Regions from separate parts of the Homo sapiens genome. Here all the other regions are linked to region 2. Evidence: fine-mapped expression QTL. A gene starts in region 2. Each other region holds a variant in brackets. All regions are shown on one strand. Distances are from middle to middle. Region 1 overlaps SPI1 (Spi-1 proto-oncogene). Region 2 holds the start of PSMC3 (proteasome 26S subunit, ATPase 3). Region 3 overlaps SLC39A13-AS1 (SLC39A13 antisense RNA 1).

What was found. PIP is the estimated chance that this variant, and not a neighbour inherited with it, causes the effect.
Region 1: its variant is fine-mapped to the expression of PSMC3 in cerebellum (GTEx, PIP 0.97).
Region 3: its variant is fine-mapped to the expression of PSMC3 in lung (TOPMed, PIP 0.99).

The regions. Positions count from the first base shown.
Region 1 is chr11:47,354,706-47,362,880 of GRCh38, reverse strand. SPI1 (Spi-1 proto-oncogene) reads left to right here. Exons shown (of 5, transcript NM_003120.3): 3 at 2,841-3,028; 4 at 3,875-4,037; 5 at 7,335-8,021. The coding sequence ends at 7,654. Among named protein-coding and RNA genes, the nearest start is that of MYBPC3, 6.1 kb to the right of the region's middle. The variant C/T (reference allele first, on the strand shown) is at 3,839.
Region 2 is chr11:47,423,311-47,431,470 of GRCh38, reverse strand. It overlaps PSMC3 (proteasome 26S subunit, ATPase 3), which reads left to right and starts at 5,032. Exons shown (of 12, transcript NM_002804.5): 1 at 5,032-5,266; 2 at 5,521-5,604; 3 at 6,225-6,350; 4 at 6,760-6,864; 5 at 6,980-7,042; 6 at 7,288-7,425. The coding sequence starts at 5,192. RefSeq lists silencers at 4,794-4,923, 5,194-5,405 and an enhancer at 5,024-5,223.
Region 3 is chr11:47,381,635-47,389,809 of GRCh38, reverse strand. SLC39A13-AS1 (SLC39A13 antisense RNA 1) reads left to right here. Exons shown (of 4, transcript NR_182308.1): 4 at 5,978-8,175. Among named protein-coding and RNA genes, the nearest start is that of SPI1, 7.2 kb to the right of the region's middle. The variant G/A (reference allele first, on the strand shown) is at 4,769.

The DNA of each region.
Region 1 (8,175 bases), 69 kb after region 2:
GGGTCTCAGCTGGGCGCAGTGGCTCAAGCCTGTAATCCCAGCACTTTGGGAGGCTGAGGTGGGCAGATCACGAGGTCAGGAGATCAAGACCAGCCTGGCCAATATAGTGAAACCCCATCTCTACTAAAAATACAAAAATTAGCTGGGCATGGTGGTACATGCCTGTATTACCAGCTACTTGGGAGGCTGAGGCAGGAGAATCACTTGAACCCGGGAGGTGGAGGTTGCAGTGAGCCGATATCGTGCCACTGCACTCCAGCTTGGGCAAGAGTGAGACTTCATCTCAGAGAAAAAAAAAAAAAAAAAAAAAGAGACAGGGTCTCACTCTGTCACCCAGGCTGGAGGCAGTGATGTAATCATAGCTCACTGCAGCCTCAAACTCCTGGGTTCAAACGATCTTTTCGTATCAGCCTCCCAAGTAGCTGGGACTAGAAGTGTGTGCCACCATGTCTGGCAAATTTTTAAACATTTTTTGTAGAGATAGGGTCTCACTATGTTGCCCAGGCCGGTCTCAAACTCCTGGGCTGAAGTGATCCTCCCTCTCCAGCCTCCTGGGTAGCTGGGATTATAGGTGTAACCACACTCAGTGGGAATCTAGGCTCTTTAGAATAAACTATTATTATTATTAATAATAATGATAATGATGAAGTTAATGTTTATCAAGGTCTGTCTTTGTGCCAAGTTCTAGTCTAAGCACTTTGCAAGCAATAGGTCATTTGCTTCTCAAAACAAGCCTGTGAGATGGGTGTAATTGTTAGCCCCATTTAACAGATGAGGACACAGGCTTGGAGAAATAGAATGACCTGCCCATTGTCACACAGTGGTAAATGGCAGAGCCAGAACTTGAGCCCAGCTCTGCCTTTCTCTCCTCTCTGCCATGTGGCTTCCTAAAGGTGGGAGTCTGGGTTGTCTGGACTGTGAGGCCAAATAATTATACATGTAGACAAGGCCTCAGTAACTACCCAGGTCTAAAAGCATTTCTGACTTTTAGAGTGGGGAATGAGAGGCTCCGGGAGAAAAAAATGTCTTGTCCATGGTCATACTGCAAAGCAGGTTTAGAAAGCGAGTACTCCGAGATCCAGTCCAGAACCAAAAATCATGATTATCTATTAGGGATGTGTGATTAGGTGTTTGTGTGAGAGAGAAAGAGAGATGCAGGCAGACATGTGTACACCTTTGTACACACGTACACACGCACGCATGGCTGGTGGTGGACTTGTCCCAGAGACACTGCCTGGACCTGGAGTCTCGTAGGCGCCCTCTTTGGCCCACATGAGACAGCCGATCTTGTCACTTTATTACCACGCTTCATTTTGGACCCCGAATTGCGCCCAGGAAGTCCCGCAGATGTGTGGCAGTTTTTGTTCCTGGAAAAGGTGTTCATGCTGAAGATCTTCCCCAGTTCCAAGACAGGGCTTTTGGTGGCATGGGGTTATTCCCCGGACTTCAGTCTCCTCCACCACAGACTCAAGGAACCCACAGGGGGTTTTCCAGGAAAGTCTCAGGTCCCAGGAACCTCACGGGAACACAGGTGCCACTGCTTAAGGTCATGGCTTTGAAGAGGAAGGGCCACCGTGTGCCTGGACAAGTTCTAGTGTGTGAGGAATGTCAGCCCTGTGACTCTGCTGTCACACCTTGGCCATGTGACAAGGCTGTGTGAGTGTGTGTGTGTGAGACAGAGAGAGAGACTGTGGGCAGCCAGGGAGCTCAGGAACCCGTGGGAGGTTTTTTTCTTTTCTTTTTTCTTTTTTTTTCTTTTTGAGACGGAGTCTCGCTCCGTCGCCCAGGCTGGAGTGCAGTGGCGCAATCTCGGCTCACTGCAGCCTCCGCCTCCTGGGTTCACACCATTCTCCTGCCTCAGCCTCCTGAGTAGCTGGGACTACAGGCACCCGCCACCACGCCCAGCTAATTTTTTTGTATTTTACTAGAGACGGGGTTTCACTGTGTTAGCCAGGATGGTCTTGATCTCCTGACCTCGTTATCCACCCACCTCGGCCTCCCAAAGTGCTGGGATTACAGGCGTGAGCCACTGCGCCCGGCCGAGTTTTTTTTTTTTTGAGGCAGAGTCTCACTCTGTCGCCAGGCTGGAGTGCAGTGGCGCAATCTCGGCTCACTGCTACCTCCACCTCTCGGGTTCAAGCGATTCTCCTGCCTCAGCCTCCTGAGTAGCTGGGATTACGGCACCTACCACCACGCCCAGCTAATATTTTGTATTTTAGTAGAGATGGGATTTCACCACGTTGGCCAGGATGGTCTCAATCTCCTGACCTCATGATCCGCCCGCCTCCGCCTCCCAAAATGCTGGGTTTACAGGCGTGAGCCACCGCGCGCGGCCCTGGCTGGGAGGTTTTAACAGGATAGGAGGGGAATCAACTTTCCCTGAGGGCCGGCTCTGGTGCGAGGTGTTTTACAAATGTGTACTCATTCGTATCTTCCCAATAACTGTGATCCCCATTTTACAGGCAACTCAACTGAGGTTAGAGAGGCCACATATGTGCCTGAGGTCACACAGCAAGTAAATGGCAGAGCCAGGATTAGACGCTCGGTCTGTGTGACTGCACAGGAATCAGGATGGAATTGCTGAGAACACGAGCTTTGCTTCAGCCCTGAGTCCTGGCTGTGACCCGGATGCTTTTGACCTTGGGCATGCTATGTAGCCGCTCGAAGCCTCAGTGTCCTCATCTATAAAATGCAGGCCTAGAGTAACCATGCAGGTGGCGAGGGTTAAACGAGATGGTTAGGCCCCATATGGCCTGGCAGTATTATTTAATGTTACTATAACCTTTTCCTGCCCTGCCCAACCCTGAGCTCACCCCATACTGCCTGGCTGTCCCCCACAGACCATTACTGGGACTTCCACCCCCACCACGTGCACAGCGAGTTCGAGAGCTTCGCCGAGAACAACTTCACGGAGCTCCAGAGCGTGCAGCCCCCGCAGCTGCAGCAGCTCTACCGCCACATGGAGCTGGAGCAGATGCACGTCCTCGATACCCCCATGGTGCCACCCCATCCCAGTCTTGGCCACCAGGTGCATGCCACCGCCTGCCCCGTCCCCCAGGAGACTGCCAGGCCTGTGGTGGGGCCCGGGAGCTTCACAGGAAGCTGACACAGGCTCTTACCCAACTCAGCTTCCTGCCCCACAGTGCCAACGGCGGCTGGAGCTCCAACGGCTGCCGCCTGACCCCCCAAGTGACCTCATGACCCCACACCCCTTATCTCATCTCACCCCGAGTATGGACAGACCCCAGATAATTCTCGCACCCTCACCAAGCCTCCCCATCCCAACGCCTTGTTGTGGGCCCTCCTGGGCCTCACTGTCTGCCACCCCCATTCACTAGCCCTCATGGATCCCACACCAAGTCACTGAACACCTCTACTGACCCTGCCTCTCCCCAGTGACCCTCCCTACTGACCCTAACCCGGATCAGTGACCTCTGCTGACCTCTACCACCCCTACTGACCTCCAGGGTCCCTCCACTCACTCATCATCCCACCTATGAAACCCCCTTCCAGACCCAACGCACCGGTCCCTAGCATGCCCTCTTCTGACCCCAGCCTAATGCGGGTCCACACAGCACCGCTGCAGGGAGGAGAACAAGGCACCACTTCCCCGGTGCCCACAGTCCTAAACCAGGAGGCCCAGCTGGGAGGGCTGGGTGGGCTGGATGTCAGCACCCCTCGCCCCACAGCCTGCACCCTATGTGCAGCACCTCAACTGGCCCCCCTTTTCCCTGGTCTTCTTCCTCCAGTCTCCTGTGCCTGCCATTGTCCCCTGCCCTCTGCACTCCTTCTCTCCCCAGCTGACCTCCCTCCCAGCCCCCCTGAGCTGTAAGCTGGC[C/T]CTTCCTGACTCTGATCTCCTTCCCCCACCGTCCAGGTCTCCTACCTGCCCCGGATGTGCCTCCAGTACCCATCCCTGTCCCCAGCCCAGCCCAGCTCAGATGAGGAGGAGGGCGAGCGGCAGAGCCCCCCACTGGAGGTGTCTGACGGCGAGGCGGATGGCCTGGAGCCCGGGCCTGGGCTCCTGCCTGGGGAGACAGGTGGGGCACCTGGCCCTCCACCCTGGCCCCGACCCTGGCCGTGTCTGTGCCCTGCCCCCACCCAGCCAGGCCAACTGACCCAGCAGCCACGCCACCGAGTCGCGTGTGTGTGTGTGTGCATGTTTGCCAGTGTGTGTGTTTTGTGGGGCTGTCTGTGGCTGTCTCTGTGTGTGTGTATCTGCTGTGTAGTGCATACGGGCATCTCCATGAAGTGTGCCAGGTGTGTGTGTCTCTCTGTGCCATGAGTGTGTGTACATCTGGGTGTGTGTGAGCAAGTGTGCAGAGGGTGCGTGTGCACAGGTACGGGCAGGTGCATGTGTGCGAGTGGCTGTGTGAGTGGGTGTGTGAGAAGGTGAATGTGAGAGCTGGTGTGGCTGAGAGTGGGTGTGGCCATGTTTGTGTGTCTGTCAACACATGAATGTATTTCAGTGCGTGTGAGCAGCTGTGCACGTATGATGTCAGTGGGTGTCAGCAGTGTGTGGGTGTGCCTGTGTGAGCAGGGATGTGAGCATGGTATATGTGAGTGGCTGTAAGCAGGCATGTGTGAGTGATATGTGTGAGTGGGGGTGTGACAGCAGGTGTGTGAGCAAGTGTATATGTGTGAATGTGTATGTAAGCAGGGATGTGTGTGATATAAGTGTGTGTGAATGGGCATAGGTGTGTGTCAGTGGATGTGTGAGTGGGTGTGAACATGTTTGAGGGTGTATGTAAGCAGGTGTGTGTGAGCAGGAAGGTGTGAGCTGGGGTGTGTGAGCATGTATGTGTATATGTGAGCAGGTCTGTGCATGTATGTGAGTGGATATGTGTTTTAACATGTGTAAGCATGTGTGTGTTCCCATGTGTGAGCAGGTGTGTGTGGGGGGTGAGGACGTGCTTAAGCACCTGCGTGTGTGAGCAGGTGTGCATGTGTGTGAACAGGTATGTGTATGTGTGAAAGCAGGTGTGTGAATGAGTGTGTGAGCATGAATGGGTGTGAGTGGGCCGGGCGTGGTGGCTCACGCCTGTATCCCAGCACTTTGGGAGGCTGAGGCAGGCGGATCACCTGAGGTCAGGTGTTCGAGACCAGCCTGGCCAACATGGCGAAACCCCGTCTCCACTAAAAATACAAAAATTAGTCAGGCGTGGTGGTGAACGCCTGTAATCCCAGCTACTTGGAAGGCTGAGACAGGAGAATTGCTTGAACCCGGGAGGTGGAGGTTGCAGTGAGCCGAGATCGTGCCATTGCACTCCAGCCTGGGCAACAAGAGCAACTCCATCTCAAAAACAAGAGAATGGGTGTGATGTGTGAGTGTGAGAGCAGGTGTGTGTGAGCATGCATGAGTGTGAGCTGCTGTGAGTGGATGTGAGAGCAGAATGTGTGTGAGCATTTGAGTGTGCAAGTAGGTGTCTGAGTGGTTGTGTGTGAACAGGCGTGTAAGCATGCAAGTGGATATGCATGAGCAGAATGTATGTGCATGCGTGAGCAGGTGTGAGGTGCAAGTGTAAGTGGTGTGAAATATGAGTGAGCAGGTGTCAATGAGGTGTGAAAGAGCTGGTGTGAGCGTGTGAGTGATAAGTGAGCAGCTGTGAGGTGTGAGCATGTATGTGAGCAGGTATGTGTGATGTGTGAGCATATGTGTGAGCATGTGTGTGTGCAGATATGTGTGGGCAGGTGTGTGTGAGTGGGTGTGAGATGTGAGCATGTGTGTGAGGTATGAGGTGTGAGCATGTGTGAGGTGTGAGCATGTGAGTGGGTGTGAATGTGTGAGGTGTTAGCATGTGTGAAGTGTTAGCATGTGTGTGAGCATGAGTTTGTAAGCATAAGTGTGTGTGAGACTTGGTGTGAGGTGTGTGAGGAAGTGTGTGTATGGATAGGTGAGCATGTGTGTGAGCAGACGTGAGCATGTGTGAGTGGGTGTGTGCGTGAGTGAATGGTGTGAGGTGTGTGAGCACAAGTGTGTGAGCAGGGGCGTGTGTGTGTAGCTGAGTAATGTGAGATGTGTGTGAGCAGGTGTGTGCGTGTGGGGCTGAGTAACGTGAGATGTGTGTAAGCAGGTGTGTGCGTGCAAGTGTGTGTGAGGTGTGGGTAGGTGCGATCATATGTGAGTGGATATGTGTGAGTGAATGGTGTGGTGTAAGCATGTGTGTGTGAGCAGGGGCATGTGTGTGCAAGGGTGAGCAATGTAAGGTGTGAGGGTGAGCAGTGTAAGATGTGTAAGCAGGTGTGTTTGTGCAAGCATGTGTAAGCAAGTATAAGCAGGTGTGATTATGAGACCTGGTGTGAGGTGTATGAGCAGGTGTGTGAACATGAGTGTGTGAACCTGGTGTGAGGTGTGTGTGAGCAGGTGTGAGTGGGCATATGAGTGTGAGAAGGTGCATTGGGTGTGACCGTGTGTGGGGGCAGTAAGTGGGTCTGAGTGTGTGTGCATGTGTGTGAGTGGGTGCATTGGGTGGGTGTGAGTGTGCATGTGAGTGGGTGTGAATGAGGTGTGAGCATGAGTGGGTGTGACCAGGTGTGTGTGAGTGGGTTGTGAATGTGTAAGCAGATGCAGTGTGGGTTTGAACATGTGGGTGGGTGCAAGCATGTGAGTGGGTGTGTCGTGTGGGTGCCAGTGTGTGGGGGCATGTTAGTGAATGAGTGTGTGAGCATGTGTGTGAGTGTGAGCTGGTGCATTGTGTGGGTGTGTGAGAAAGTGACAGTGTGTGAGGGCAGATGTGGGTGTGAATGTGCAAGTGGGTGGGTGTGGGTGCAATCTGGCGTTTGGGTGCATTGCACAAGCATGTGTGTGAGCATGTGGGTGTGAGTCTGTGAGCACGTGCATTGTGTGTGCATGTGTGTGACAGCATGTGTGTGATCAGATACATTGTACGTGTGAGCGTGTGTGGGTGTGAGCATGAGTGAGTGGTTGCATTGTGTTTAAGCATGAGTGTGAGTGGGTGTGAGAAGGTGCGTTGTGTGAGCACGTGTGTGAGTGGGTGTGGGCGTGATGTGTGAGCATGTGTAAGGAGGTGTGGGTGCGTTATGTGGATGTGAGCATGTGTGTGTACTTGGTGCACTGTGTGGGTGCGAGTGTGTGCGCGTGGGGGGGGTGAGTGCGTGGGTGTGAGTGGGTGTGTGTGAACGCCTGTGTGTGCGCAAGCATGTGTGTGTGTGTGAGTGTGGGTGCGTTGTGTATGCACGCCCGGCGCGGGCTGGGGCAGCCGTTCCCCTGCCCTTCCCGGCCACCCCGTCCCCGGGCCCCTGTGCGTACGCAAGGCGGTGGGGGCGGCTCCCATGTGGGCCCCGGGCCCCCTCCCACCGGGCCCTCCCCCCCGCAGGCAGCAAGAAGAAGATCCGCCTGTACCAGTTCCTGTTGGACCTGCTCCGCAGCGGCGACATGAAGGACAGCATCTGGTGGGTGGACAAGGACAAGGGCACCTTCCAGTTCTCGTCCAAGCACAAGGAGGCGCTGGCGCACCGCTGGGGCATCCAGAAGGGCAACCGCAAGAAGATGACCTACCAGAAGATGGCGCGCGCGCTGCGCAACTACGGCAAGACGGGCGAGGTCAAGAAGGTGAAGAAGAAGCTCACCTACCAGTTCAGCGGCGAAGTGCTGGGCCGCGGGGGCCTGGCCGAGCGGCGCCACCCGCCCCACTGAGCCCGCAGCCCCCGCCGGGCCCCGCCAGGCCTCCCCGCTGGCCATAGCATTAAGCCCTCGCCCGGCCCGGACACAGGGAGGACGCTCCCGGGGCCCAGAGGCAGGACTGTGGCGGGCCGGGCCTCGCCTCACCCGCCCCCTCCCCCCACTCCAGGCCCCCTCCACATCCCGCTTCGCCTCCCTCCAGGACTCCACCCCGGCTCCCGGACGCCAGCTGGGCGTCAGACCCCACCGGGGCAACCTTGCAGAGGACGACCCGGGGTACTGCCTTGGGAGTCTCAAGTCCGTATGTAAATCAGATCTCCCCTCTCACCCCTCCCACCCATTAACCTCCTCCCAAAAAACAAGTAAAGTTATTCTCAATCCATCCTCTTGCAGCACAGAGTCTCTTTTAAAATTTGTTGTGTATCTCTTTTGGCCCCTGTGTGCTGCGACGTCTCTTTTTGTCATTTGTCCATCGGGTGTTTACCGAGGACTGTACCCAATGCTGGACCCTGGGAACATGAGGACCAATGACACAG
Region 2 (8,160 bases):
ATGTTCAACATTTTTCAAAATAAAGGGTTTTTCAAAATAGTAGATTTTAGGAAGCATTGTCCAGAGAAACAGAACCAATAGGATCTTTTTGCTTGTACTTTTGTTTTTTGTGTTTTTTTGTTTGTTTGTTTTGAGATGGAGTCTTGGTCTAGTCGCACAGGCTGGAGTGCAATAGTGCGATCTCAGCTCATTGCAACCTCCACCTCCCAGGTTCAAGCAATTCCCCTGCCTCAGCGTCCTGAGTATCTGGGATTACAGATGCCCACCACCAACGCCCGGCTAATTTTTTTTGTATTTTTAGTAGAGACGGGGTTACTCTTGGTCAGCCTGGTCTCGAATTCCTGACCTCAGGTGATCTACCGGCCTCGGCCTCCCAAAGTGCTGGGATTACAGGCGTGAGCCACCGCGCCTGGCTGCTTGTACTTTTAATGGCAAAAACTGCAATTACTTCTGCACCAACCTGCTATATAAAGAGATGTAGTATAAGGACTTGGCTCATGTGATTATGGAGTCTGGCAAGTCCCTAGATCTGCAGGGTGAGTTCTGGAGACCGAGGAGACTTGATGGTTTTGTTCCAGCCTGATTCAGAAGGTCTGAGAACCAGGAGAGCCGATGGGGTAGTTCTCCTCTGAAGGCTGTCAGGCTCAAGCCCTGTGAAGAATAATGTTTCAGTTCAACTCCAAAGGCAGAAAAGACCTTTATGCCTGTCAGAAGGGAATCTGGCAGGAAGAACTCCCTCGGAGTCAGCCTTTCTGTTCAACGCCTGCAACTGACAGGATGAGGCCCGCCCACATTAGAGAGGGCAACCTGCTTTCCTCAGTCTCCTGATTTAAATGTCAATCTTGTCTAAAAACAGCCTGACAAAAAGACCCAGAATAATGTTGAACCAAACACCTGGGCATCCCATGGCCCAGTCAAAATTAATCATCACAGGAGGGTTAGGGTAGAATCCAGGAGACCAGTGGAAAGGTCCCCATAATAATCTAGGGGTAGCGGTGGCTCATGCCTATAATCCCAGCACTTTGGGAGATGGAGGCGGGCAGACCGCTTGAGGTCAGGAGTTCGAGACCAGCCTGGCCAACATGGTGAAACCCCATCTCTACTAAAAATATAAAAATTAGCCAGGCATGGTGGTGTACACCTGTAATCTCAGCTACTTGGGAGGCTGAGGGAAGAGAATTGCTTGAACCTCGGAGGCAGAGGTTGCAGTGAGCCAAGATAGTACCACCACACTCCAGCCTGGGCAACAGAGCAAGACTCCATCTCAAATGCAACAGCAATGCCAAATAATAATAATAAGCTAGGTCTGAGATGATGGTGGCTTGAACCAGGGTGATAGGCAATGGAGGGAGTGAGAAATGGTCCTATTCAAGGGGGTTAGGAGGAGTTATATCTTTCGTTTTGGAAATTTTCAAATAGATACAAAAGGAGAGAAACCAATGATTTCCATCTCAGCCTTAACTATGCATTTCAGCACATGGACAATCTTGTTTACCCCCAAAAGCCCCACCAAGCTCCACACCCTCCGCTTGATTGTTTTGATTCAGATCTTACTATTTCTGAATTCTGGATATTTGTTTAAGGTAAAGTAATCCCAGCACTTTGGGAGGCCAAGACGGGTGGATCACCTGAGGTTAGGAGTTCAAGACCAGCCTGACCAACATGGAGAAACCCCACCTCTACTAAAAATACAAAATTAGCCAGGCATGGTGGTGCATGCCTGTAATCCCAGCTACTCGGGAGGCTGAGGCAGGAGAATTGCTTGAACCCAGGAGGTGGAGGTTGCAGTGAGCCCAGATCGTGCCACTGCACTCCAGCCTGGACAACAAGAGTGAAACTCTGTCTCAGAAAAAAAAAACCAAAAACACAAAAATTAGCTGGGTGTGGTGGTGTGCATCTGTAGTCCCAGCTACTCAGGAGGCTGAGGTGGGAGAATCACCACTGCACTCCAGCCTGGGTGACAGACTGAGACTCTGTCTCAAAACAAACAAACAAAAACAAAGAATGACTCCAGGGTTTTGGCCTGGTGGCTCTCACCCTAGCTTGATGCCAAGACAGAAACATCTGTTCTAGGCCTGGCCTAGACCTCTTCTCTCTAGAGGCCCAGATGGACCAGAGGTCCCTAATTCAGCCAACCTCTTTCTCCCTGAAGACATGCTCTGCTCCAGGTTCCCAGCTCCTTGCTGGGACTGACCTCCTGGTACTTCCTTGACCTTTTTGAGCAGAGTGAACCTTCATAAACTATTCTCCTTTTTCTCCCATCTCCCCAAGACATTCCTACTCCTGGGCTCCCAAGATAATCAATCCCTGTCATTCTAGCCAGGATTAAAGAAGGAGATGTTCAGGGCCGGGTGCAGTGGCTCACGCCTCTAATCCCAGCACTTTGGGAGGTGGAGGCGAGAGGATCATGAGGCGGTCGAGACCATCCTGGCCAACATGGTGACACCCCGTCTCTACTAAAATACAAAAATTAGCTGGGCTTGGTGGTGGGTGTCTGTAATCCCAGCTACTCAGGAGGCTGAGACAGGAGAATTGCTTGAACACAGGAGGCGGAGGTTGCAGTGAGCCAAGATCGCACCACTGAACTCAAGCCTGGGCGACAGAGCAAGACTTCGTCTCAAAAAAAAAAAAAAAAAAAAAAAAAGCAGGCCAAGGGCTTATACTTCAAAGGTGAAGGATAAATGAGGACCTGGATCATATATCTAGAGGGATGAGGTATCAGGGGTGGGGGGATTCCGTTAAACTGACTAGCAGGATTTTTGTGAAAACAGGGTTAGACAGGTTGATGACAGGGATGAAGGAACAGCCCACAAGGCCTAGTCAAAAAAAGATGGCTCAGGCCGGGCGCGGTGGCTCATGCCTGTAGTCCCAGCACTTTGGGAGGCCGAGGCGGGCGGATCACGAGGTCAGGAGATCGAGGCCATCCCGGCTAAAACGGTGAAACCCCGTCTCTACTAAAAATACAAAAAATTAGCCGGGCGTAGTGGCGGGCGCCTGTAGTCCCAGCTACTTGGGAGGCTGAGGCAGGAGAATGGCGTGAACCCGGGAGGCGGAGCTTGCAGTGAGCCGAGATCCCGCCACTGCACTCCAGCCTGGGCGACAGAGCGAAACTCCGTCTCAAAAAAAAAAAAAAAAAAAAAAAGATGGCTCAGAAGAGCCTACCTAAAAGTTGGTTAAGGGGAGAATGTCTGCATCCCTCCTAGGCCCAGGCTGGAGGCTTTCTAAACATATTCGTATTTGTCAGGATCTCCAAAAGTAGGCCCCAGAATGGGACCCAACTGACCCAGGCATAGTGGGACCAGCACAGATTGGACAGTCTTTCCCCTCTGGGCTTCTTGGCTCCTATCGGGCAACTCAAAGTGAGAATTTGGGGTCAGCAGTCCTAGTGCTGCCAGTGACTCACTGAATAACCTCCAGCAAGGCACTTAACCTCTCTGAGCCTCCCTATGCTTATTTAAATTTGAGAATGGTAATTCAGTCTGTCCACAAGGCAGGCTTGTTGAGAGAATGGAATAAAGCACTGTTACTTGAGGAGACGCTTTGTCAGCCTGAGTGAGCAGCTGTACATGTTGTTATTTAAAGAAAAAAATTCTGCTTTCAACCGTGTTCCAAAAAAAACTACTGCAAAGGCTAGGTGTAGTGGTTCATGCCTATAGTACCAACACTTTAGGAGGCTGAGGCAGGAAGATCACTTACGCCCAGGAGTTTGAGACCAGCCTGGTCAACATGGTGAAACCTTGTCTCTACTAAAAATACAAAAATTAGTTGGGCGTGGTGGTGGGTGCCTGTAATCCCAGCTACTTGAGAGGCTGAGGCAGGAGAATCCATTGAACCCGGGAGGCGGAGGTTGCGGTAGGGAGAGACCGCGCCACTGCATTCCAGCCTGGGCGACAGAGCGAGACTCCGTCTCAAAAAACAAAAAACAAACAAGCAAACAAAAAAAAGGCAACGATTGCACAGATTTTCATCAGGTTAACAGAGTGTTTGTGATGGTTTGACTTGAAATATAAGCTATGTTGCTTACATGAAGTTCCCTTTAAAGGGGCTCCAGGGCTCACCTCAAAGGATAAGGAGAGATCATTTAAAATAGCCGACAAGGGTACAACGAATGAGTCTCCCATGATCCGGAGACCCGCTCTGCTCACTGAGATTACTAACCATGGTCAGAGAAAACAAACAATTGCAGATACGAGACATAATTTTTTTTGAGACGGAGTCTCGCTCTGTCGCCCAGGCTGGAGTGCAGTGGCGCGATCACGGCTCACTGCAAGCTCCGCCTCCGAGGTTCATGCCATTCTCCTGGCTCAGCCCGGAGTAGCTGGGACTACGGGCGCCCACCACCACGCCCGGCTAATTTTTTGTATATTTAGTAGAGACGGGGTTTCACCGTGTTAGCCAGGATGGTCTCGATCTCCTGACCTCGTGATCCGCCCGCCTCGGCCTCCCAAAGTGCTGGGATTACAGGCGTGAGCCACCGCGCCCGGCCCGAGTCATAATGTTTTTAATCGTAGAGGCTGATGGTCAATTGAGTTCTTCCCACGTGGACAATTCCGTGAAGCCTGCTCTGACGTTAGGAGCAGCAGCGATTTCTCTTTAAAGCTGGTTAATGATTCCCTCCCGTAACTCCGGGTGGCCAGCTTGTACTTAAATAATTGTAAAAATGCGGACTGAGGTGGCATGCCTTTTTGGCCCTTTGCACACGGCTGGCCTATGTCGTTTATTAATTGGGAGGCAGTGTCATTGTGTAAATCCCCTTATTCCTAGCGGGGTCACGGTCTGAGTTTGAACGCGCCCCTCCGCAAGCATCTGTCACGGGCCAGATTAAAGACTACATTTCCCAAAGGCCCTCGCGGATCCCACCCTTCTCCCTCCCTTTCCGGTTTTACACATAGGCCCCGCCCCCAACGCGCGTGTCGGCCAATAGCGGCCCCACCTCTCGCGCCCGGCAAAAATAGGACGCGGGCGGGAACGTTTCGGGGTCCGCGGGGGCGGGGCCTGTGGCCAGGGGTTGGTCTTTGGAATCGGAGAGGCAGATTCGCTGCTCCGCAGCACGGCCGGAGCTGGTCGGGTCAAGAGTCGGGATTTGTGGGGAGAGGTTTTCCACTGGTCAAGAGAAGGCTTTAAGAAAGACGGTATTAATCTCCCGTTGCGGCTCCCGCCTGGTCCCATCTTCTGCCCGCTCCTCCAGGAAATGAATCTGCTGCCGAATATTGAGAGTCCAGTGACTCGGCAGGAGAAGATGGCGACCGTGTGGGATGAGGCCGAGGTGGGCACCGGGCGAGCTGGCGGTCCGGGAACCGGGGCCCGCAGGGAGACGCCATTGACAAGAGGGAAGGAGGTGGCTGGGGGTCAAGGTCTGGCCCGATCCCGGGGACGGGGTTGTTTGGGATGTGGGCAGGGGTCCTGACTCCATCCTGGTTTTATGGGCGTGGAAACTGAGGCTGTGAGTGGGTTCGGAGAACGAGGGATGCTTGTCCTGAGTAAAAGTAAATATATAAATAAACAAATAATTTTTTACAGCAAGATGGAATTGGGGAGGAGGTGCTCAAGATGTCCACGGAGGAGATCATCCAGCGCACACGGCTGCTGGACAGTGAGATCAAGGTGGGCGCACAGCTCCTGTGCGGGCGATGGAGCCCCCACAGGACAGGCCCCGGCGATCCGAGTCGCCTCTCGTACTTCCTAATCGGGCACCCTGGGGGAGACATGGGGCTCGGGCTTCCCCCTCATATCAGGAAGAGAGGAAAGAAAACTAAGCCTTAAAAGGGACAAGAAGACAGGTAGGGGGTGGTGGGAGGCCTGGGCTGAGATGAGAAGTTATCAGATTGCCTTTCCCAGTGAGAACTGGGAATAATCCTCTCAAGAATCCTTCTTTTAGTAAAATGCCTATTTTACAGATGAGGAGACAGGCCCAGAGAGGTTTGTACTGCGATAAAGCACCCAGTTCTTACTATGAGGCAGAACCTAAAACCTATGTTTGCCTCTCTCGGAGGCCTGCTTTTATTCCAATACTACCACTATTTCACCAGGAGGTTTCCAAACTGGCCTCCTCTTTTGACTTCTGCAGGATGTGGACACAGTCAGACTCTGCCTTCAGAGAGCCTCAGAGCTGGATGAATGGATGCGGGAGGGTCCCCTGGGCACCCTGGACCTCACTAGTTACAGGGCTCTAGCATAAGCTGTGCCAGGGTTTATATTTGCTTCTCCTCCCCTCCTGATCTCAGATCATGAAGAGTGAAGTGTTGAGAGTCACCCATGAGCTCCAAGCCATGAAGGACAAGATAAAAGAGAACAGTGAGAAAATCAAAGTGAACAAGACCCTGCCGTACCTTGTCTCCAACGTCATCGAGGTGTGTGTGTATGTGGAGGGGAAGAGAGGGAGTCAGCAGGGAATGGGGACAGCCTGGGGTGGGGCCACTAGGGAAAGAGTGGGTGGAGGTATTGAGGCCAAACTGCATGTCAGAGCTACACCTCCTGGGGCACTTTCATGGGGAAGACGGGGCCTGCAAAGTCCTGGGAGGTCTCACGTGTCTCCTTTTCTGTTGGTTATGTCTCCTCCGGGGTAGATGAGCCCTGTGCAGAGGAGCAGCACCTACACAGAGATCAATCCCTGGGCTTAGCAGGGGCACCCACGTTTGGTGGGCTCAGGGCTATTGGAGGAGGGAGGTAAGGATGGCCAGCCCTGCAGGTATTAGGAACTGTCTTAGGAAGCACTGGGCCTTGGGGAGTTCAAGGAGCTGAGTATTTTTTCCTTCCCAGCTCCTGGATGTTGATCCTAATGACCAAGAGGAGGATGGTGCCAATATTGACCTGGACTCCCAGAGGAAGGGCAAGTGTGCTGTGATCAAAACCTCTACACGACAGGTGAGCGTGGCTCAGCAATGAGAGACTGGAGGAGGGTGAGGAGCGGATGTGGGACAGGACTAGGGAGCCTTCCCTGAGGACACTAACTGAGACTGCCCCTGTAACTTGTCCACAGACGTACTTCCTTCCTGTGATTGGGTTGGTGGATGCTGAAAAGCTAAAGCCAGGAGACCTGGTGGTGAGTGGGGCCTGAGCCCAGGCAGTGCTTTTCTGGTGACTAGCTGAGCCCCTGTACCCGCCCCAGGTCACTGTTGGCTCTGAATCTTGGCAGAACAGCTCCGAGAGTCTGGGATTCTGTCTACTTGCTGTTTGATTCTTGTATTGCCCAGTCCTGTGTCTTTCCCTCTGCAGACACCTGTCACCCAGTCAGTTGGGTAGCCCTTGAGCTGGGCCAAATCTGAAGGCCCTGTGCTGTGTCCTTAGGGTGTGAACAAAGACTCCTATCTGATCCTGGAGACGCTGCCCACAGAGTATGACTCGCGGGTGAAGGCCATGGAGGTAGACGAGAGGCCCACGGAGCAATACAGTGACATTGGGGGTTTGGACAAGCAGATCCAGGAGGTGAGGGAGGCACGGCAGCTGCCAGCAGCCTTGTCAGCCTTTTAGTTTCTCCACGCCATTGATGCAGCTCATCTCCCTAATGTGTCTTTCATCCTCATAGCAACCTAGGGAGGAAGGGAGGGGTGCCATGTGACAGGTGAGGAGACTGAAGCCCAGAGAGTTTAAATGCCTTGCCCAGGATCACAGAGAGACCAGAGCCAGGACTGGAGCCCAGGCTCCTGGTTCTTGGCCCAGTGTCCTTTTTTTTTTTTTTTCCGAGATGGAGTTTTGCTTTTACTGCCCATGCTGGAGTGCAATGGCACGATCTCGGCTCACCGCAACCTCTGCCTCCCGGGTTCAAGCAATTCTGCCTCAGCCTCTCGAGTAGCTGGGATTACAGGCATGCGACACCAAGCCTGGCTAATTTTAGCGGAGTATTTTTAGTAGAGACGGGGTTTCTCCATGTTGGTCAGGCTGGTCTCGAACTCCCAACCTCAGGTGATCCGCGTGCCTTGGCCTCCCAAAGTGCTGGGATTACAGGCATGAGCCACTGCTCCCAGCCCCTGGCCCGGTGTCTTTTCTGCCATATACTCCCGTTCCTGGAGAGTCCATAGCCAGCCTGGGTGGGGATGAGTGTTCTGTGTCCTCTTTTTTTTTTTTTTGTGACGGAGTCTTGCTCTGCCGCTCAGGCTGGCTGGTGTGCAGTGGCGTGATCTTGGCTCACTACGAGCTCCGCGTCCCGGGTTCATGCCATTC
Region 3 (8,175 bases), 42 kb after region 2:
GTAGAGCTGGTCAGCAGGGACAAGGGTGTGGGAGGCTGGCCAGGATTTGGGATTCAGAGGAGGTCTAGCTGCCCCTGGCCACTGGGGCTGGGGCAGAGTGGGACAAGAGACTGAGGCAGAGCTGGGGAGCGGTGGGGGGAAACTAGAGGGAAGGCGGTCTTGGGTGGCAGCCTGGAGGAGGCAAGCCCTTGAAAGAGAGAGATCTGAGGGTGTGGAAGTGGGTGGGCTTGTGCGCAAAAGCTGGGGAGACTGAGAAAGGTTCCAGGAATGCTGAGCGGTGTCCTCTGGCTGGAGGTGGAGGTGGGGCTGGCCACTTGGGCTGGGGACGGGCAGAAAGGCTGGCCGGACTCCGGGCGTTGGAGGTTCCCGCACAGGCCTCGGAGGTTTGGGCTTCAGCTTGAGGACAGGCAAGAGCTCAGGAAGACTTTTAGGTGGGGAAATATCCATGAGAGAACCTCGAGATAGGGACAGCCACGGAGGCACAGGCCTGAGGGGCCCTGAGAACCACAATCACCTCCTGCCCTGCTCCCGGCTGTGTGCCCTTGGCCGTGCCCCTTACCTCCGGGAACTGCACTTCCGTCATCTGCAGAATGGCACTGACAAGGCCTGCCTCGTACGGTTACGTGAGGGAGGGGTGAGTTAGTGCCCAGCACGGGCACCCTCCAGTGCTTGCCTGTCACCACCCACAAGCACTGGAGCACTGCCATGGTGCAGAGCTGGGGTCTAGGTCTCAGGTGGATCTGGGCGAAAGCCTCACCTACACCCCGGATTGACCAAGCCACGCTGTGCCGACTCACGGCCACTTCTGAGCCTCAGTCTCCTCATGTGTACCACGGCACCAGCTTCAGGTTTGAATAAGAGAGGACACACCCTGCGACACACTCCATGTTTCCTGGAGTCAAAGCCAAATTCCATACCATGGCCTGACCTGACTGGCCCTGTCTGAGCTTCTGCCACTGGCTGTGCCCCCATAGGCCTCCTTGCCATCTCTGGCTCACGCTCCTGCCTGGGGCATTGGCACTGACTAGTCCCTCTGCCCGGAATTCTTCTCCCAGACATCTGCTTGGCTCGCTCCCTCACTTGCTTCCAGGGTTTGCCGGATGCACCTCTCTTGGTGAAGCCTGCCCTGCCTGCTCTCGTGAATGCTGCAAACTGTCCCCGCCCACTCCATCCCCTACCGCAAGCCCCTTATCCAGCTGCATGCCCTTGTTCCTATGGCGAGTGTCACCTTCCAACATGCAATGAACACTCGCTATCATGAGTTCATCGTGGGTCTTGCCCTGCTGAAGAGCAGGCCCATGAGGGCGGGGATGAAGGGCCCTGCCTGTTTGGGCTGCCTGGCATGCAGAGGCCCCGAGTCAATCATTGTTGAAGGCCTTAATGCACTGAAGAGCCAGCCCAGTGCTGTCAACAAAACTTGGGGAGCTCGGAGGGGCCCAGTTGACCCTGGCTGGGGCCCAGGGAGCCTCTCCCAGTGTCTCAACCATGAGAGGAAGTTGCAAGACTGCCATTTCTGTCCACAGGCTCAGCTCTTTTTGGTCAACTTTCCCAGCTCTTGGTCTGAGGCCTGTGTGTTCTCACATGCCTTGTCACACCCTATGGGGACAGGTTGCTAGGAAAGTGGGTGGGGGGACATTTCCTCATTTTCTAGCTCGTTTGGGCCAAGGCTGAGAGATCTATGAGGTCAGGGGTCGTGCTCCCCTCTGTGGACTCAGCTTTGAGGACACCCCCTCAAGTTTCCTGTTGCCCGCCTGCTTTGTGATTGCATTAGCACCCGGCCTGCCCCTATCATCAACCCAGCCAGCAGGGGCAAAGGGCCACACTACCCTAGGCCTGCCCAGCCTCCCTGTCACTCTGCAAGGCCCAGCCCCTGCAGGGTCTCCCACTTGTCTAGTAGGCTGGGAAGCTGCACTGTCTAGCAGGACTGGTAGGATAATGAATAGGTATAACTTTTATTTTTATTATTATTTATTTATTTATTTTTGAGATGGAGTTTCACTCTTGTCACCCAGGTTGGAGTGTAGTGGTGCCATCTTGGCTCACTGCAACCTCTGCCTCCCAGGTTCAAGTGATTCTCCTGCCTCAGCCTCCTGAGTAGCTGGGACTACAGGTGTGCACCACCACACCCAGCTAAATTTTGTATTTTTAGTGGAGACGGGGTTTCACCATGTTGGCCAGGCTGGTCTCAAACTCCTGACCTCAGGAGATCCACTCGCCTCTGGGAGTGCTGGGATTACAGGCGTGAGCTATCATGCCTGGCTGATACAACTTTTGTTAAGGGCAATGTGATAATATCTGTTTCCAGTCTTATTTTTTTTTTTAAGACAGGGTCTTGTTCTGTCACCCAGGCTGCAGTGCAGTGGCGTGATCATGGTTCACTGCACCCTCATCCTCCAGGGCTCAACCAATCCTCCCATTTCAGCCTCCTGAGTAGCTGGCACCACAGGCACACACCACCACCACCACCACCCCACCAAGCTAATTTTGAAAATTTTTTTAGAGATGGGGTCTCCCTATGTTGCCCAGGCTGGTCTCAAACTCCTGGGTTCAAGTGATTCTCCCACTTTGGCCTCTCAAAGTGTTGGGATTACAGGCGTGAGCCACTGCACCCGCCCTGTCTGTCTATCCATCATCTGTCTCAAAATTAACAATGCACAGAGGGCATAGTGGCTCACACGTGTAATCTCAGCACTTTGGGAGGCCAAGGCAGGAGGATGGCTGGAGGGCAGGAGTTCGAGACCACCCTGGGCAGCAGAGGGAGACTCTATCTCTAAAAAATAAATACAGGCCAGGAGTGGTGGCTCATGCCTGTAATCCCAGCACTTTGGGAGGCCAAGGTGGGTGGATCGCTTGAGCCCAGGGGTTTGAGACCCAGCCTTGGCAACATGGCAAAACTCCTGTCTCTACTAAAAATACAAAAAACATTAGCTGGGCATGGTGGCGTGCACCCGTAATCCCAGCTACTCAGGAGGCTGAGGCAGGAGAATTGCTTGAACCCAGAAGGTGGAGGCTGCAGTGAGCCAAGATTGCTCCACTGCACTCCAGCCTGGGTGACAGGGCAAGACTCCATCTCAATAAAATAAAATAAAATAAAATACATAAATACATACATAAAAATTAAAAAATGAAAAATGCACTGTCCTTTGACCTGGTAATTCAACTTTTGGGAATCTCTCCTAGACATCCTCCCTCCTGCATATATGTAATTTAGCATATGTTATTGATTGCTGTATTATTTGTAATAGCAAAAGACTCGAAACAAATGTCCATCAATAAGTGGTTAAAGCTACTTGGGGGGCTGAGGTGGGAGGATCGCCTGAGCCCAGGAGGTCGAGGCTGCAGTGAGCCATGATAGAACCACTACACTCCAGCTGTGTGTGCAGAATGAGACCCTGTCTCAAAAATACATATATACTGATGAGAGACTGGTTAAATAACAATGGAATGCTGGGTGCGGTGGCTCACGCCTGTATTCCCAGCACTTTGGGAGGCCAAGGCAGGGGGATCACTGGAGATCAGGAGTTTGAGACCAGCCTGGCCAACATGGTGAAACCCTGTCTCTACCAAAAATACAAAAATTAGCTGGGAGTGGTTGCCCATGTCTGTAATCCCAGCTACTGGAGAGGCTGAGGCAGGATAATTGCTTGAACCCAGGAAGCGGAGGTTGCAGTGAGCCGAGATCATGCCACTGCACTCCAGCCTGGGTGACAAAGCGAGACTCCATCTCAAAAAGATAAGTAAATAAATAACACTGGAATACTATCCAGCAATGAAAATGGACCATAGCGACACAGAATAACATGGTGGGGAAAAGAAGAAAGACCCAAAAGGATATTTACACTATGATTTTTTTAATATAAAGATTAAAACCTGTTAAAATAAAAACTGAACTATAAGGGAAAGCAAGAGAAAAAGCAAGAGGCCTGTGCGTTGGCTCATGCCTGTAATTCCAGAACTTTGGGAGGCTGAGGCGGGCAAATAATGAGGTCAGGAGTTTGAGACCAGCCTGGCCAACATGGTGAAACCCTGTCTCTACTAAAGATACAAACAATTAGCCGGGTGTGGTGGCACACGGCTGTAATCCCAGCTACACGGGAGGGTGAGGCAGGAGAATCACTTCAATCTGGGAGGCAGAGGTTGCAGTGAGCCAAGATCATGCCATCGCACTCCAGCCTGGGCGACAGGGTGAGACTCCGTCGGAAAAAAAATAAATAAATAAAAAATAAAAGAAAAGCAAGTAGAAAATTACTGAAAAAGTTAGGACAGTGTTATTTCTAGAGGGAAGTAGGGGACATTTGGGGATTCTTCTGGGGTTCTGGCAATGTTTTTTTGTTGTTTTGTTTTGTTTTTTTTTTTGAGATGGAGTCTTGCCCTGTCACCCAGGCTGGAGTGCAGTGGCGCGATCTCGGCTCACTGCAATCTCTTCCTCCCAGGTTCACGTCATTCTCCTGCCTCAGCCTCCCAAGTAGCTGGGACTACAGGCACCCGCCACCACGCCCGGCTAATTTTTTTTTGTATTTTTAGTACAGATGGGGTTTCACCGTGTTAGCCAGGATGGTCTCGATCGCCTGACCTCGTGATCTGCCCACCTCAGCCTCCCAAAGTGCTGGGATTACAGGCGTGAGCCACCGCGCCCGGCCTTTCTGGCAACTTTTTTATTTCTTTACCTGGATGGTGGTTACATAGATGTCAGCTTTATAATTATCTTTTTTTTTTTTTTTTGGAGACGGAGTCTTGCTCTGTCGCCCAGGCTGGAGTGCAGTGGCGC[G/A]ATCTCGGCTCACTGCAAGCTCTGCCTCCCGGGTTCACACCATTCTCCTACCTTAGCCTCCCGAGTAGTTGGGACTACAGACCGTGCCACCATGCCTGGCTAATTTTTTTTTTTGTATTTTTAGTAGAGACGGGGTTTCACCGTGTTAGCCAGGATGGTCTCAATCTCCTGACTTGGTGATCTGCCTGCCTCGGCCTCCCAAAGTGATGGCATTACAGGCATGAGCCACTGCACCCGGCTGCTTTATAATTATTCTTTAAACTGCACATAAATATTGTATTTACTCTTCTAAATGAACGATGTCTCTCATGACTTAAAAATATCCTGGTAAATCCAAATAGTGGAATACTATACGGCCATTAAAAAGACACTACAGTCAACACTAATTTATAGTGTATTTAAAAATAACTAAAAGAATATAATTGGAATGTTGGTAACACAAGGAAATGAAAAATGCTTGAGGTGGTGGATACCCCATTTACTGATGTGATTATTACACAATTTATGCCTGTATCAAAATATCTCATGTACCCCATAAATAAACACACCTACTATGTACCCACAAAAACTATAAATGGAAAAAACTCAGAAGGACAAGACAGTGCTACATGGGTGTGACATGTATATTGGGGAAAAAAAACAAGGGAACTACAATATGTTTAATGTGCCCCCCTCTGTGTAAAAAATTTTTTTCTTTCCTTTTTTTTTTTTGAGACGGAGTCTCGCTCTAACGCCCAGGCTGGAGTGCAGTGGCACGATCTCGGCTCACTGCAAGCTCCGCCTCCCGGGTTCACACCATTCTCCTGCCTCAGCCTCCCGAGTAGCTGGGACTACAGGCGCCCGCCACCACGCCCGGCTAATTTTTTGTATTTTTTTTTTAGTAGAGATGGGGTTTCACCGTGTTAGCCAGGATGGTCTCAATCTCCTGACCTCGTGATCCACCCCCCTTGGCCTCCCAAAATGCTGGGATTACAGGCGTGAGCCACCACGCCCGGCCCCCTCTGTGTAAAATTTTTAAAAATATATCTGCTACACGCTGTGTAGATGATTTCTAGACCAAAACACAAGATCAGGTAACAAGTGGGCTAGTCTGTGGAAGGGGAACTGGGCAGTTGTTTACCTTTTTTGTACCTTTTGAATTTTGTACCATGTGCACATGTTATCTATTCAAAAAATAAAATAATTAAAAATGATGTTTTTGTTTTTCAGTCCCTAGAGCGTCCAAGATTTTTGGTTTCAAACCAATTTCCTGCTGACCAGAATGAAATGGAGCCACATTCCAGCACGATGCACCTGCTGACCTCCTGCAAGTCAGGGACCTTCTCTGCCCCTCTTTTGCTCTGCTGCAGGAGGGAGAAGCTGGGAATGTGTTCCTCTGGGGTCCCATCACCTCCAGCCAGCCACTGTCCCTGTCTCCCCAAAACCTCCTCGTTGTCCCTCCTCTGTCCTCCTCCTCCTCCATCTGCCTTCGCCCTGCTCTCCTCTTTTTCGCCTGAGGTTCGTGCTGCCTCCTCACCTCTTGTCCTGTTTCTCCCTTCTCTCTGCTCCCTCCTTTGATCTTGCTATTTTGCTTCTCTTTCCCTTCCTCTCTTCTCCTCCCTCCCCTTCCTCCCTGCTCCCTGCCTCAGCTTCTCAGTCTCTCTCCGTTCTTCCTCTAGCTTCCTTCCCTCCCCAGAAGACCCAGCCCTTCCTAGAGCCCCAGAAGCCAGGGTTCATGCCCCAGCTCTCTACCCACACATGCTGTGCAACCCTGGGCCAGTCACTGGTCTCTTGGGCCTCAGTTCAACAGATGGCTGTCTTGGTGATGTGAGATCATAGGGTGGAAGCACCCAGAATGGTGCCAGGCACTCAAAAATTTTTTTCTTTTCCTTTTTAAGGAACTACTAACCGTGAGGTTATGGATTACCAAACCGTTCCTGTTCTTGGAATCTGGGTCCTACTATTCCCAAGAATTTGAATTACCACGGGTCCCTGGGGATGTAAGGGGATGAGGCTTCTGATGTACTTTGGGAGGGGGAGGAGTGGAAAGAGGAGTTGGGAGGACACTCTAGCATTGCCCAGAGGGCAGAGGACATTCTGCCTATTTCCAGAGGTTATTGACCCTGGATCTCTTTTATGGAGTTCCTCACCCAGGCCCCTTGAGCTTGGCCATACTTGAGGCAATGGGATATCTTCCTTCTCCTGGAGCCCCTTGAATCTTAGGCCTCGGGAACACACAGTCTACTGTGTTTCTTGGCTGCACCCACGGAGGACAGCCCCCATACTCCTTGCTTACAACCAGCAAAGACTCCACAGCCATCCCTGCACACGACTCAGGCTCCTTGGCTTGGCACTCAAGGCTCTTTGCTTTCCTGTCCTGCTTTGCTTCCAGCTGCAAAGATGGTGGCTTCCTGTTTTCCTCTTCGTTTCCTTTGCTTAAGTTGATTCTCAGCCAGACATGCTTTCCCCCTGCACGCTTCCCTAAGCCATCCTATCTGGGACCCTGACCCAATCAATGGTTCCCTAATGCACCTTTGAGACCAAGTGTACCTGGCACCTCCTCTCTTGCCCCACTATCTGCTCACATGACCCTCTGCAGGCCTGTAAGCTGCTGGAGGCTCCGAGTATGCCTCATTCATGTCTATCCCCCTTACTAGGCCCAGACCATGGAAGACACTCAATAAAAAGTAAGTGATTAAATGACAACCTCTACGGAAAAGAGTATGGAGATTTCTCAAAGAACTAAAAACAGAACTACCTTTTGGCCAGATGCAGTGGCTCACACCTATAATCCCAACATTTGGGAAGGCTGAGGCAGGTGGATTGCTTGAGCCCAGGAGTTCAAGATCAGCCTGGGCAACATGGTGAAACCCTATCTCTACAAAAAATACAGAAAATTAGATGAGACTACAGGTGGCACACATCCATAGTACCAGCTACTCCAGAGGCTGAGGCGGGAGGATCGCTTGAGCCCAGGAGGTCCAGGCTACAGTGGGCCAAGATCACGCCATTGCACTCCAGCCTCAGTGATAAAGTGGCATTCTGTCTCAAAAGAAAAAGAACTGGCCAAGCATGGTGGCTCACGTCTGTAATCCCAGCACTTTGGGAGGCCGAGGCAGGTGGATCACATGAGATCAGGAGTTTGAGACTAGCCTGGCCAACAATGATGAAACCCCATCTCTACTAAAAATACAATAATTAGCTGGGCGTGGTGGCGGGCGCCTGTAATCCCAGCTACTCAGGAGGCTGAGGCAGGAGAATCATTTGAACCCGGGAGGCAAAGTGAGCCAAGATTGTGCCACTGCACTCCAGCCTGGGCAACAAGAGCGAAACTCAGTCTCAAAAGAAAAAGAAAAAGAGAGAAAAGAAGAAAGGAAAAGAAATATCATTTGATCCAGCAATCTCACTGAGTATCTAACCAAAGGAAA